Linked DNA regions of Homo sapiens. The protein of the gene in region 1 purifies or fractionates together with the protein of each later gene. This does not show direct contact. Each region holds a gene or a part of one and is shown on either strand. Other genes may lie near its edges. The genes, in order: ZBTB49, HINFP and PSD2.

What was found.
Region 2: the proteins of ZBTB49 (region 1) and HINFP purify together in Homo sapiens (affinity purification with western blotting; one study listed by BioGRID). This does not show direct contact.
Region 3: the proteins of ZBTB49 (region 1) and PSD2 purify together in Homo sapiens (affinity purification with mass spectrometry; one large-scale study listed by BioGRID and IntAct). This does not show direct contact.

Annotation. Positions count from the first base shown.
Region 1 is NC_000004.12:4,310,749-4,314,399, forward strand, and holds part of ZBTB49 (zinc finger and BTB domain-containing protein 49), read left to right. Parts: intron 1-2,292; coding exon 2,293-2,366; intron 2,367-3,651. UniProt on the Homo sapiens protein: Transcription factor. Inhibits cell proliferation by activating either CDKN1A/p21 transcription or RB1 transcription.
Region 2 is NC_000011.10:119,124,494-119,128,144, reverse strand, and holds part of HINFP (histone H4 transcription factor), read right to left. Parts: intron 2,866-3,651; exon of another isoform or gene 2,378-2,865; coding exon of another isoform or gene 2,346-2,377; intron 1,211-2,345; coding exon of another isoform or gene 1,201-1,210; coding exon 1,020-1,200; intron 1-1,019. UniProt on the Homo sapiens protein: Transcriptional repressor that binds to the consensus sequence 5'-CGGACGTT-3' and to the RB1 promoter. Transcriptional activator that promotes histone H4 gene transcription at the G1/S phase transition in conjunction with NPAT.
Region 3 is NC_000005.10:139,816,288-139,819,938, forward strand, and holds part of PSD2 (PH and SEC7 domain-containing protein 2), read left to right. Parts: intron 1-1,193; coding exon 1,194-1,274; intron 1,275-3,651.

The DNA.
Region 1 (3,651 bases):
GATCTCATGATCCACCTGCCTCAGCCTCCCAAAGTGCTGGGATTACGGGCATGAGCCACTGCGCCCGGCCTACTTGCTAGAATTTTTATGGACACAACTATAGGTGATTTCTAAGACATGGTCTGTGCACCTAAGATATCCTTAGTACTAGAATATATCAAAAGTTTACCAAAAATAAAAATATTGACTAAAGCTCTAATAATCTGGGCCTGAGTTTGCTGTGTAACCTGGAATAAATTATCTGAATGTACTATTGGATTTTTTGCATGGCCCATTCCATTAGTTTTATTTAATCTGCTTTTATATTATTTATCAGAAATATGCATTCCTGTATCAGGGAGAAAGATTGTTTTCATTATCTATTTCTAGTACAAAATAGGTAAAGAACACTTTAAAGATTTTTCTACCACTTAAAATATTAAATGGAAGATCATTTGATTATATTTCTTTTGAAAACAAGTAATCGTTATGCCATTTTTAAAAAGGAAAAATGCAACATTGCTAAGAATTAACCCAGAATGCATTTCATTCAGAATACATAGTTTACAAAATAACCGAAAAAAGAGGGCTCTAATTTAACAGTTCAGCAGATGGTGCTATTCCGATTATTATGCAACTGATCAGCTTTTCTGAAATTTGCAAGTGACTAATTTAAAACACTGGTGTATTATTTTTAACTCTCCAGTATGTGTTTCCTGAGTGGCAAAGTTACCGTCATATTGAATATTCAAAACACACTATTTCATTCATAGAAACTTGTGTTTCCTCAAGGTTTCCCCACAAGTAGAGGAGTTTAGATTCACAGCAACCAGTATTAATTTCTGGCCCCACCATGTAACTGAGACAACTCCTTTATTTATCTGAATACAATGGTAATTGTACAGTTTATCTGAATACAGTGTTAGTTGTATTATTATCTCAAGAAAATAGGTGGTAAAGGCCTAATTTGAAGTTCAGCAAATGTATATTGCTGTTGATATTTGTTTTATTGTTATTAGGAGCCATTCTATTAAAAGCTGGACATTTTCCAAAGTTTTGTCAAACTCTTTCTCTTTGGTTGTTGAAAATAAACTTGAGTTTTTTCGAAGCCACATTTATCATATTCTTAAATGTAATGTCTAACTCTGTTTCCCAGAATTTGATAGACATGATGAATCTTTCATGTTATATAGTCCGCAGATGGCATTTTTAATACTTGTGAATTCTAGTTTTCATTCACAAGTCAATATCAAACTCATCTTCAAATCTTAACCATGAATCTTAATCTTTGCATTTTATTTAAAATGCAATTTGCAAATTAAAAAAAGCCCCGTGTGTTAGTTGGCTAGTATTCATTCTCGTTTTTCACTTATCTTGTGCATGACACCTGCTCATTTTTACCGCTGGGTATATTACCTCATTTCAGTAGGTTTTCCTTTTTTTTCTTTTTCTTTTTTTTGCCACAGAACACTGTACAAAATTAAAATGAGGAAAATAAAGGTTGAGACTATTAACTTAATTACAGCAATGGAAGATTTTCCAAACCTAATTCGAAACATTAGCAATTAGCTTTTTAAATATCTGAGGCATTTGCAGTTTTAATTTCGCTGTACTTTAGGTAATTTAATATTGATTTCCTGTTGATTAGTACATAGAAATCCATCTGATGATCTCCGTTTCAGTGTTATTCTTCGCAAAGCCTTGCTAGTTTCAGAAATTAGGAACACAATGGCCCTGCACCTGAGAGGCTGCTGTGATTCTCCTGATTTGCCCTTTTGCACAAAGGTAAAATTGAGAAACCTGTCAGAAAGAACCAAGTGTACTTGCCAGAGGAAGTACTTTTTGGAAATGTCTTCCCTTCTTTATGAACAGAAGTATGTTTTTTAGAAAGAAACAATACTGAAATAAGGACGTATGGTGCTTTTGTTTGTTTTAAGTGATGTTTTAAATACATGGCCCAAATAAAATACATCAAGGCCTATTTAAAGTCCAGGCTTGGCGACCACCAAAGCAGCCTCCACAGGGTGCTGTTAAGAGGGAAGCACTGCATAGGGCCTGCCTGAACTAGGACACAGCCAAGGGCTCACATGGAGGACGGGGTGGAGACACATCTCGTGTACAGCAGGTGGCCAGGCACTCTGGCTGCTCTTCACGCTCTTGCCCATGGCTTCTTTTGAGTTGTGTGTAGCTCATCTTCATCTGGAATTTGAATTGGAACCTGGCTAAATGTGTCAGTTTTCCTTTTGAATTTATATAATTTAAAAAACCAAAAACTTTCATTATTGGTGTGTTTTTCTTTTCCTCTTTTTGCAGGCAGGTAACTTGCAGACTCACTTACGACGGCATTCTGGTGAAAAACCATACATCTGCGAGATCTGTGGAAAGAGGTCAGTGCTGGGCGTGTTCTTCCGTGTGGAAGGGAGCATGTCTAGTCTCAGTGTCTTTGGTAGTCAGTGTCTTCTGAAGTGGTGGCTCACAGATGAGCCACAGGTGGGCTCACCCTGCCACTGCAGAACACAGGTAAATTCAAACCTTCTGGCTTTGCATGTGACACACGAGAGAATAATAAAAAGAAAAGTTAATTCAAAGAAAGAAAAGCTGGGACAGGAGTCCCAAAAAGGAAATGGGGTTTTAAATGCAACAAAATTATTTTATACTAATATTTTCATTCATTCTAAAAATGTCTCTGAAAATATAATAGATTAATGCCCCCAAGGAGGTGACTGTCTAGTAGGGGAAATGGGACTTGGCAGCTGAGTGACTAGATTTCAGGAGAGAAGGAGGTGGTGGAAGGTGCCACAAGCCGTGGGTCTGTAACAGCCTGTGAGAGCTCCACCCCAGGGAGGAGGAAACTAAGTCTTGATGGGTGGGTAGGATTTTGACCTGGCAAAAGAGAATCTGACTCTTGACGTGGAATAAAGTGTGTGGCAGCTCGATTCCTCTGCAGCGTGGTATAAATGAGGAGCTCTTCCCCTGCTGTGTGTGCAGGCTGGCACCCTCGACCCTCCTTCCTGTCCTTGGGCTGTACGTCAATCAGGCCACGTACTCCATCATCTGGTGGTTGTGCCAGGACAACAGGCATCAGCCAGGACTATGCCAGTCACGAAGCTCTGTACGCACCTTGGTTACGTAGCTTTTATATTCATTTATTTAATCATTCATTGATTCAACATTTTTTAGACACCTGCTGTATGCCAAGTGCTATATGGGTCCATAAAAATAAACAGTACAGAGTCTCTGCCTGTCACAGATTCATACCGAAGTGCCTTGAGGCAAGAGATAGTCACGGGGTCAGTTAGAAGTCAGTGTCCTCATATTCAGTCTCAGCACATGCTGGGGAAAGCCGAGGAGGAAGCGACTCTCGATTCAGTTTCAGGAAAACCATTTCTCTGCCAATGGTAGAAAACAAACAAAAGCTGCGGCGGGCAGCGCATCTCCCTTTCTGCTGTAGCTACCTGAACGCTGAAAGTCAAGTTCAGGGCCCAGTGTCATCTGCCGCTCCTTCCAGATGCCTGGGAGCATAGCCCTCCTGCTGCCTCTGATGGCATCACTTCACTGTTGGCCCCTGCATGTCTTGTTTTGCATGGTGTTTGAAATCTGAACTTTCTGAATTCCATTTCAAAGTGAGGCATGTGTTTATTTTTTATTTATTTATTTTTTTGAGACAGAGTT
Region 2 (3,651 bases), on another chromosome or scaffold:
TGCGGTGGCTCACGCCTGTAATCCCAGCACTTTGGGAGGCCGAGGTGGGCGGATCATGAGATCAAGAGATTGAGACCATCCTGGCCAACATGGTGAAACCCCATCTCTACTAAAAGTACAAAAATTAGTTGGGCGTGGTGGCGCGCGCCTGTAGTCCCAGCTACAAGAGGCTGAGGCAGGAGAATTGCTTGAACCTGGGAGGCAAAGGCTGCAGTGAGCCGAGATCGAACCATTGCACTCCAACCTGGCAACAGAGCAAGACTCCGTCTCAAAAAAAAAAAAAAAAATTGGAAGGTGGGAGTGGGGTTGGACTTGGTGGCACAAGCCAATAGTCCCAGCTACTTAGGAGGCTAAGGTAGGAGGATTGCTCGAGGCCAGGAGTTTGAGATCAGTGGGCAACATAAGCAAGATCCTGTCTCTAAAAAAAATTTTTTTAAAAATTGGCGTGTGGTGGTGGTACATGCCTGCAGTCCTAACTACTCGGGAGGTTGAGGCAGGAGGATCCCTTGAGTGTTGAAGGCTGCAGTGAGCTATGATCATGACACTGGACTCCAACCTGGGTGACAAGATGAAGCCCTGTCTCTAAAAAGTAAGATGTATTTCTGACTGGTTGCAGTAAAAGAAAAAAAAAATTGGGAATACTAGAAGAGTAAAAAAAAAAAAAAAAAAAACACAACAACAAAACACAGGTTGCCAACAACTTGTACAGAATGATTAAAAAAAAGCACATTCATCTGTATTTAAATATATGTAAACACAGGCAGAGAGATGTCAAAAACAATGTTCACTAAAGTACTGTCAGCAATTACTTCTTGATGGCAGGATGGCAGATTTATTCCTTATATCCTTGTTGACTGAGTTTTCTATAAATGAGTTTACAATGTTTTTATATACAACAAAAACACAATTAGGAAAATAAACCACCATTCTCTTAGGCCGCCTTCTCCCTCTAAGGAAAAGAAAGTCAGATTTTCCACCTTTCCTTGAGCTCCTCCCCTTCCTGTGTCCTGCTCTCTTACCAAGTGGGTCATCCTCCTCTTCCTCTTCCTCCTCCTCCCCAGAGCCATGCAGGTGCTGCTGCAGGTGCTGAGTGACATGCTCAAAGAACTTTTCCATGGTTGAGCACACAAAGGAGCAGGACCCCCACTCACACTGTAGCCACAGATTCTCCTTTCGGGGAACTTTCCCAGGAGGCGGCATGGCCTTCACCCTAGAGGAAGAGGAAGAAATCCACAGCTGCAAGAATTCCACCCAGGTGCTGCTGAGGGCAAAAAGCTGGGCAGGCAGCCTGCCTAGAATCAGCACGTGTTGTTCCAGTGACCCATGAGAAACCCTGCCCTTTTACAGTAAGGATGGAGTAATTCCTTAAATCCCTGGAAGATGTCTGGTGTTTGTGGAAAGGGAAAACAAAAACTAACACTATTGAGTGTGTGCCAGGCACTGAGCTAAACGCTTTAACAGACATTTTCTCATGAAGCTTCAGAGCAACCCACCAAGAAGGAATTATTCCTCTGTGAGGCAGAACAATGCTCAGGTTCAAACAGATGGCTTTTGAGAAGGATCAGGGTTCAAATCCTGGCTCCACTGTCTACCATCTACTAGCTGTATGACCTTTGTCAAGAACTTAACTTCTGAATACTCTCATCTGCAAAATGAAGATAATAAATCTTTTTGTTTTTAATTTCACACTTACTATATGTCAAGCACCACAGTAAGCATTTTATTTGCATTATGTCATTTAATTACCAACACCACCCTTTGCCGTAGGTGCTTTTTTTTTTTTTTTTTTTGAGATTGAGTTTCGCTCATCTCCCAGGCTGGAGTGCAATGGCTCGATTTTGGCTCACTGCAACCTCCGCCTCCCGGGTTCAAGCGATTCTCCTGCCTCAGCCTCTTGAGTAGCTGGGATTACAGGCGCCCGCCACCACGCCTGGCTAATTTTTATATTTTTCGTAGAGACAGGGTTTCTTCCCCATGTTGGTCAGGCTGGTCTCAAACTCCTGCCCTCAGGTGATCCACCCACCTTGGCTTCCCAAAGTGCTGGGATCATAGGTGTGAGCCACCACGCCCAGCTGGTAGGTGCTATTTTTAACCTCATTTATAGATAAACACCTGAAGTTCCAGAGGTCAACTGACTTGCTCACGGCCACACACTAGTGGTAATGGTAGGGTCATGTTGGGCTGACTCTAGTCCATATACGGTTCTACTCCATAGAGCCTACAGATGAGCCTAGAAGCTCCTTATTTCTTATTGAATCATAAGTCCCCTGCCAGACTTTCACAGTGCCATACAATCTGCCTTTACCTAACCTATCCAACGGTTTACTCCACCACTCTGCTAATACCTTCTGTTAAAATGTAGATTCCATTTGAACATAAAAAGCCGTATCTGTGTAGTTTATACTGCACCTTGGGTGTCTATACACTGCTAGGCATGCTTAGGCATGTAATAAATATTTTTTTTCTTGAGACAGAGTCTCACCCTGTCACCCAGGCTGGAGTACAGTGGCACAATCACAGCTCACTGAAGCTTCGACCTCCCCAGGCTCAGGAGATCCTCCTACCTCAGCCTCCCAAGTAACTGGGACCACAGGCATGCGCCACCACATCTGTCTAATTTTTGTTTTGTTTTGTTTTTGTAGTGACAGGGTTTTGCCATGTTGCCCAGGCTGGTCTCGAATTCTTGGACTCAAGCAACCCATCTGCCTCAGACTCCCAAAGTGTTGGAGTTACAGGCATGAGCCACTGCACCCAGTCTGTAATAAATATTTATTGAAGAAAGATAAACATGAAACTGAAGGTTCTCGGCTGTGCGCACTGGTGCACACCTCTAATCCCAGCACTCTGGGAGGCCAAGACAGGTGGATCATCTGAAGTCAGGAGTTCAAGACCAGCCTGGCCAACATGGTGAAACCCTGTCTCTACTAAAAATACAAAAATTAGCCAGGCGTGGTGGCACAAGCCTGTAATCCCAGCTACTCGGGAGGCTGAGGCAGGAGAATCGCTTGAACTTGGAAGGCAGAAGCTGCAATGAGCCGAGATCGTGCCACTGTACTCCAGCCTGGGCAACAGAGTAAGACTCTGTCTCAAAAAAAAAAAAAAAAAAAAACACACACACACACACAAACAAAAAACTAAAGGTTCTCAATTTTATTTCATTTTATTTTTATTTTTTGAGACAGAGTCTCGCTGTTACCCAGGCTGGAATGCAGTGGCGCAATCTCAGCTCACTGCAACCTCCACCTGCCGGGTTCAAGAGATTCTCCTGCCTCAGCCTCCTGAGTAGCTGGGATTACAGGTGTGTCACCACGCCTGGCTAATTTTTGTATTTTTGCTAGAGACAGAGTTTCACCATGATGGCCAGGCTGGTCTCGAACTCCTGTCCTCAGGTGATCCACCCGCCTCAGCCTCCCAGAGTGCTGGGATTATAGATGTGAGCCACCATGCCCAGGTAGCTCTCAATTTTAGATCTGCACACGAATGTAGTTATCCAGCGCCTGCGTGAGAAGTTCGGATTCAGGAAGGCAGGAGTTAAGCCTAGAAATCTGCCCTTTTAACTCAGCACCCCAGTTGTGATGCAAGCAGTTCCAGAAGCATACTTTGAGTAACAATTAAAGAATAAACGAAACACAGAACAGAGGGTGACGTTGC
Region 3 (3,651 bases), on another chromosome or scaffold:
ATCTCTCCAACATTCAGTCTGTGTTTAATTTTCTCTGATTGTCTAAAAAATGTTGGTTTATTGAAATCAAGATTCAAACAGGGTCCACACATTGCACTTGGCCGATTGGTCTGTTAAGTCTCTTTTAACCAACAACAGTTCTGCAGTTTGGCGGTCCTCCTCCCTTCTTAAGTGCCGTGTATTTGTTGAAGAAACCAAGCCATTTGTCCTAAAGAATGTTCCACGGTTTGGATATGGTATCCTGATGGTGTTATTTAACATGTTTCTCTATTTCCCATGAGTCCTGCAAATGGGCAGCGAGCTCCAGGCTTAATTAGAATCAGGTGGAAATTTGTTCTAGTTTTTGACAAGAATTCCTCATGCCAGTCTTCTTGAAATACAGTCTTCGTTGGCCTGCAGGACAACACACCCCACCTCTGGCTGCTGCTTCTCAGCCTCCTTCGCTGGCTCGCTCCTGGGTTCCCACCCCGATTCGGGGCTCTGGGCCGGCCAGCTTGTCTGTGCCCTCTCCTGTTGCATGGGCTCAGCCCCACCCTGAGCTGTTACTGACCAGCTGTGAATTGATGACTCTCACACGGATGCCTCGTCCTGAAGTCTCACATCTCCCGCAGGGGACCACCTTCTTGGTCATGCCGCACGTCCATTCCATCTCCTTGTCTTGTGGATTCTGCCCCCTAAATTTCTCTTTTCCCCATCCCTTCTATCTCTATCTGGACAACTATGGCAGTCCCCCTGTGGGTCTCCACTCAGCAGGTAGCGCATTCCAAAATACAGACTGACCATCCCTGCTTTAACCTTTCTGAATCAAGTCCTGGTCCTTCCCCTGGTCCCGGCCTCATCACTTGCTGCCCCATTCTTGCTCTTTAGGTTCTGGCCACATGGCCCTGCTAGTAGCTTCTTGGACATGCCATGCAGTTTCCTCCCTGGGGACACTGCATCATCCCACCCCTACTCCCTTCGCCTGGTTAGCTCGTAATTCCCTGTGTTGACTGAGACATCACCTCCTCCAGAAAGCCTTCCTGACACCCCAAGACCAAGGTTGAATGTTATGGCCCAACTAGCCAGCAGCCTAGGGGTTGAGCAGGTCTAGGGGGTGGGTGGGTCCGGGTACCCTGGGCCCAAGTAATGCCTGTGATTCTGTCATCCTTGGGCTGGACCCTGCTTCTAACAGACATCCCATACTCTCCTGGCAGCAACGAGTTTAGCAGGCTGGTGGCCGGGGAGTACCTCAGTTTCTTCGACTTCTCGGGCTTGACTCTGGACGGAGCACTCAGGTCAGTGGGGCTGGGACAGGCAGTGCCCACAAGTGGTACAGGCTGCACTTCTGGATTCTCATGTCAACTCTACCATAAACTTGCTGTACAACCTTGGGCAAGTCTTTTGACCCCTGGTGAGGCTGTGGGGAAGGGGCCACAGGAGCAGCAGCGGCCCAACAGTTAGGCGAGTGCCCACTTTGTAGTAGCTGTTAGGATGTGAGGGTGGAAATGTAATTGTGACTCTAGGAGAGGAAGGGAGGCTCAGGACTTGCCTGTATTGAGCACTTCCTGCCTGCCAGATGCTCTAGGTCTTTACTCACCTTGCTTACTGCATCCTCTGTACCCAGTAAGGTAGGCACTATCATTCCTATTTTTCACATGAAGAAACTATGGGCCAGAGGGATAAAGAGACTTCCCCACAGTCATCGAAGGAGGAGATGGTAAAATGGGATTTTATCTCAACTCTATTGGTGTTTGGACCTAGGGAGTAGACCTCAGGAGGGCCAATTGCAGGTTCCCAGGAGCAGGAGGGTAGAATGGATGGGTGCAGCCCTGTAGTATCTAGCAGGCTCTGGTGGCAGGGGCCAGCTGGGCAGATACTGGCCAGGTCCTAGGAGAGATGGATGCATCTCAGAGCTAAGGGGTAGGGTGACTCATGCACGTTAGACATCTTGACTGTGTTCCACATGTCTCTTACACTTTAAAAAAATGTAATTTCTGGTCAGGCACAGTGGCTCATACCTGTAATCCCAGCACTTTGGGAGGCCGAGGCTGGAAGATTACCTGAGGCCAGGAGTTCCAGACCAGCCTGGGCAACATAGGGAGGCCCAGTCTCTACAAAAAAGTAGAAAAATTAGCCAGGTATGGTGGTGCAGGCCTGTAGTCCCAGTTCCTCAGGAGGCTTAGGTTGGAGGATCACCTGAGCCTGGGAGGTTGAGGCTACAGTAAGCCATGACTGCACCACTGCACTCCAGCCTGGGTGACAGAGTGAAACCCTATCTCAAAGAAACAAACAAACAAACAAAAACCACATACAAAAAAAGTAATTTCCATTCTTTTTTCTCTGCTTCTGTTGGGATATTTTCGGTTGACCTGTTTTCACTTCACTTCACTTACCCTTTTCTGTTTGTAATATGTCATTAACCCATTTATGCCTGAGGTTGCAATTTTCTGAATTGCAAAATCAGACCTTGGCGATCACCTTGAGCAGTAGGATATAAATAACTCCCACATGCTTAGCGTTCCAATAATGGAACCATAGGCATAAATGGGTTTTGAACTCATTTATTGAGTTTTGAATTTATGTTATATTTTCCATTTCTAGAATTTCCATTTTATTAAAAAATTTAAAAAATAGATTCTAATTCTCTGGGTGAATTATCCATCTTTTCCATTATTTTCTCCACCTTTCCCTCTCTTTTTTTGAACATATTAGTTGTAAAGCCCTTGCTGCTAACTCCAGTATCTATCATCTGAATCATCTGTATCTGTTTCTATTGTCTCTTTTTTCTCTTGGTTTTCCATCATATATCCTGTCTCTTTGCATGCTTAATAACTTAAAAAAATTGGATGCTGTATACTTTGTATAGAATTGTAGTGGTTCTAGATTATTCTGTGTTCCTCCAGAGAGGGTTTACGTTGTCCTTTGCTAGGCAGTTAGAAGGTTTGTGGGGATGCAGTGCTAATCCAATTAAGGTTGCACTGAAGTTTGGTATGGCTCAGGGTTTGCTCTGATAATAGGGTCCAGGCCCTCGGAGTTTTCTACTGGGAGCCTCATGTGTTCAGTTGGGCAAACCCCCTTGTTGGCTCAGAAGCCTAGTTTTGTCTTCTCAGTGCAGCAACACTGCCCCCTCTTCAACAAAATATCCCTCTACTTCTCAGAGGTTTTCTGCTTAGCCTTTTAGCCTCCTGCCTTTTACATCTTTTATATCTCTGAAATTCAGCAACTATCTCAAAGGGAAAAGTGGCCATGTGTTTACAGCCCCTGAAGTCTCCAGCCTCTTGAAGCCACCCAATGCCCTGCCTCTTGCCTGTGCCCATAATCAGCAATGCCCCCAGGGAAAAAGCAGCTGCAGAAGGTCAAACTACCTTCCCGCAGTTCTCTCCTCTCCAGAATCTTGGCCCTTTTTGTCTTTGTTGCCTCAGCAATTTTCCAATATCTTAAGAAAACCCATGGTTTTTATTGTTTTCAGTGGAAGTGTTGGTGTGCTGCAGGCTACTGTATCCTGAGCTGAGTTGTAAAGATTGCGCTAGAATGAGGAAGATTGGTCTGGCAAGGTGTTCAGCGGGGTCAGCTCATGATCAGAGGTGTGGGTGCTAGACTGAGTGCCTTGTATGCCAGCCCAATGCTGAGGCTCAACTGTGCAGGCACTGGAGAGCCGCAGAAGGTACTGGC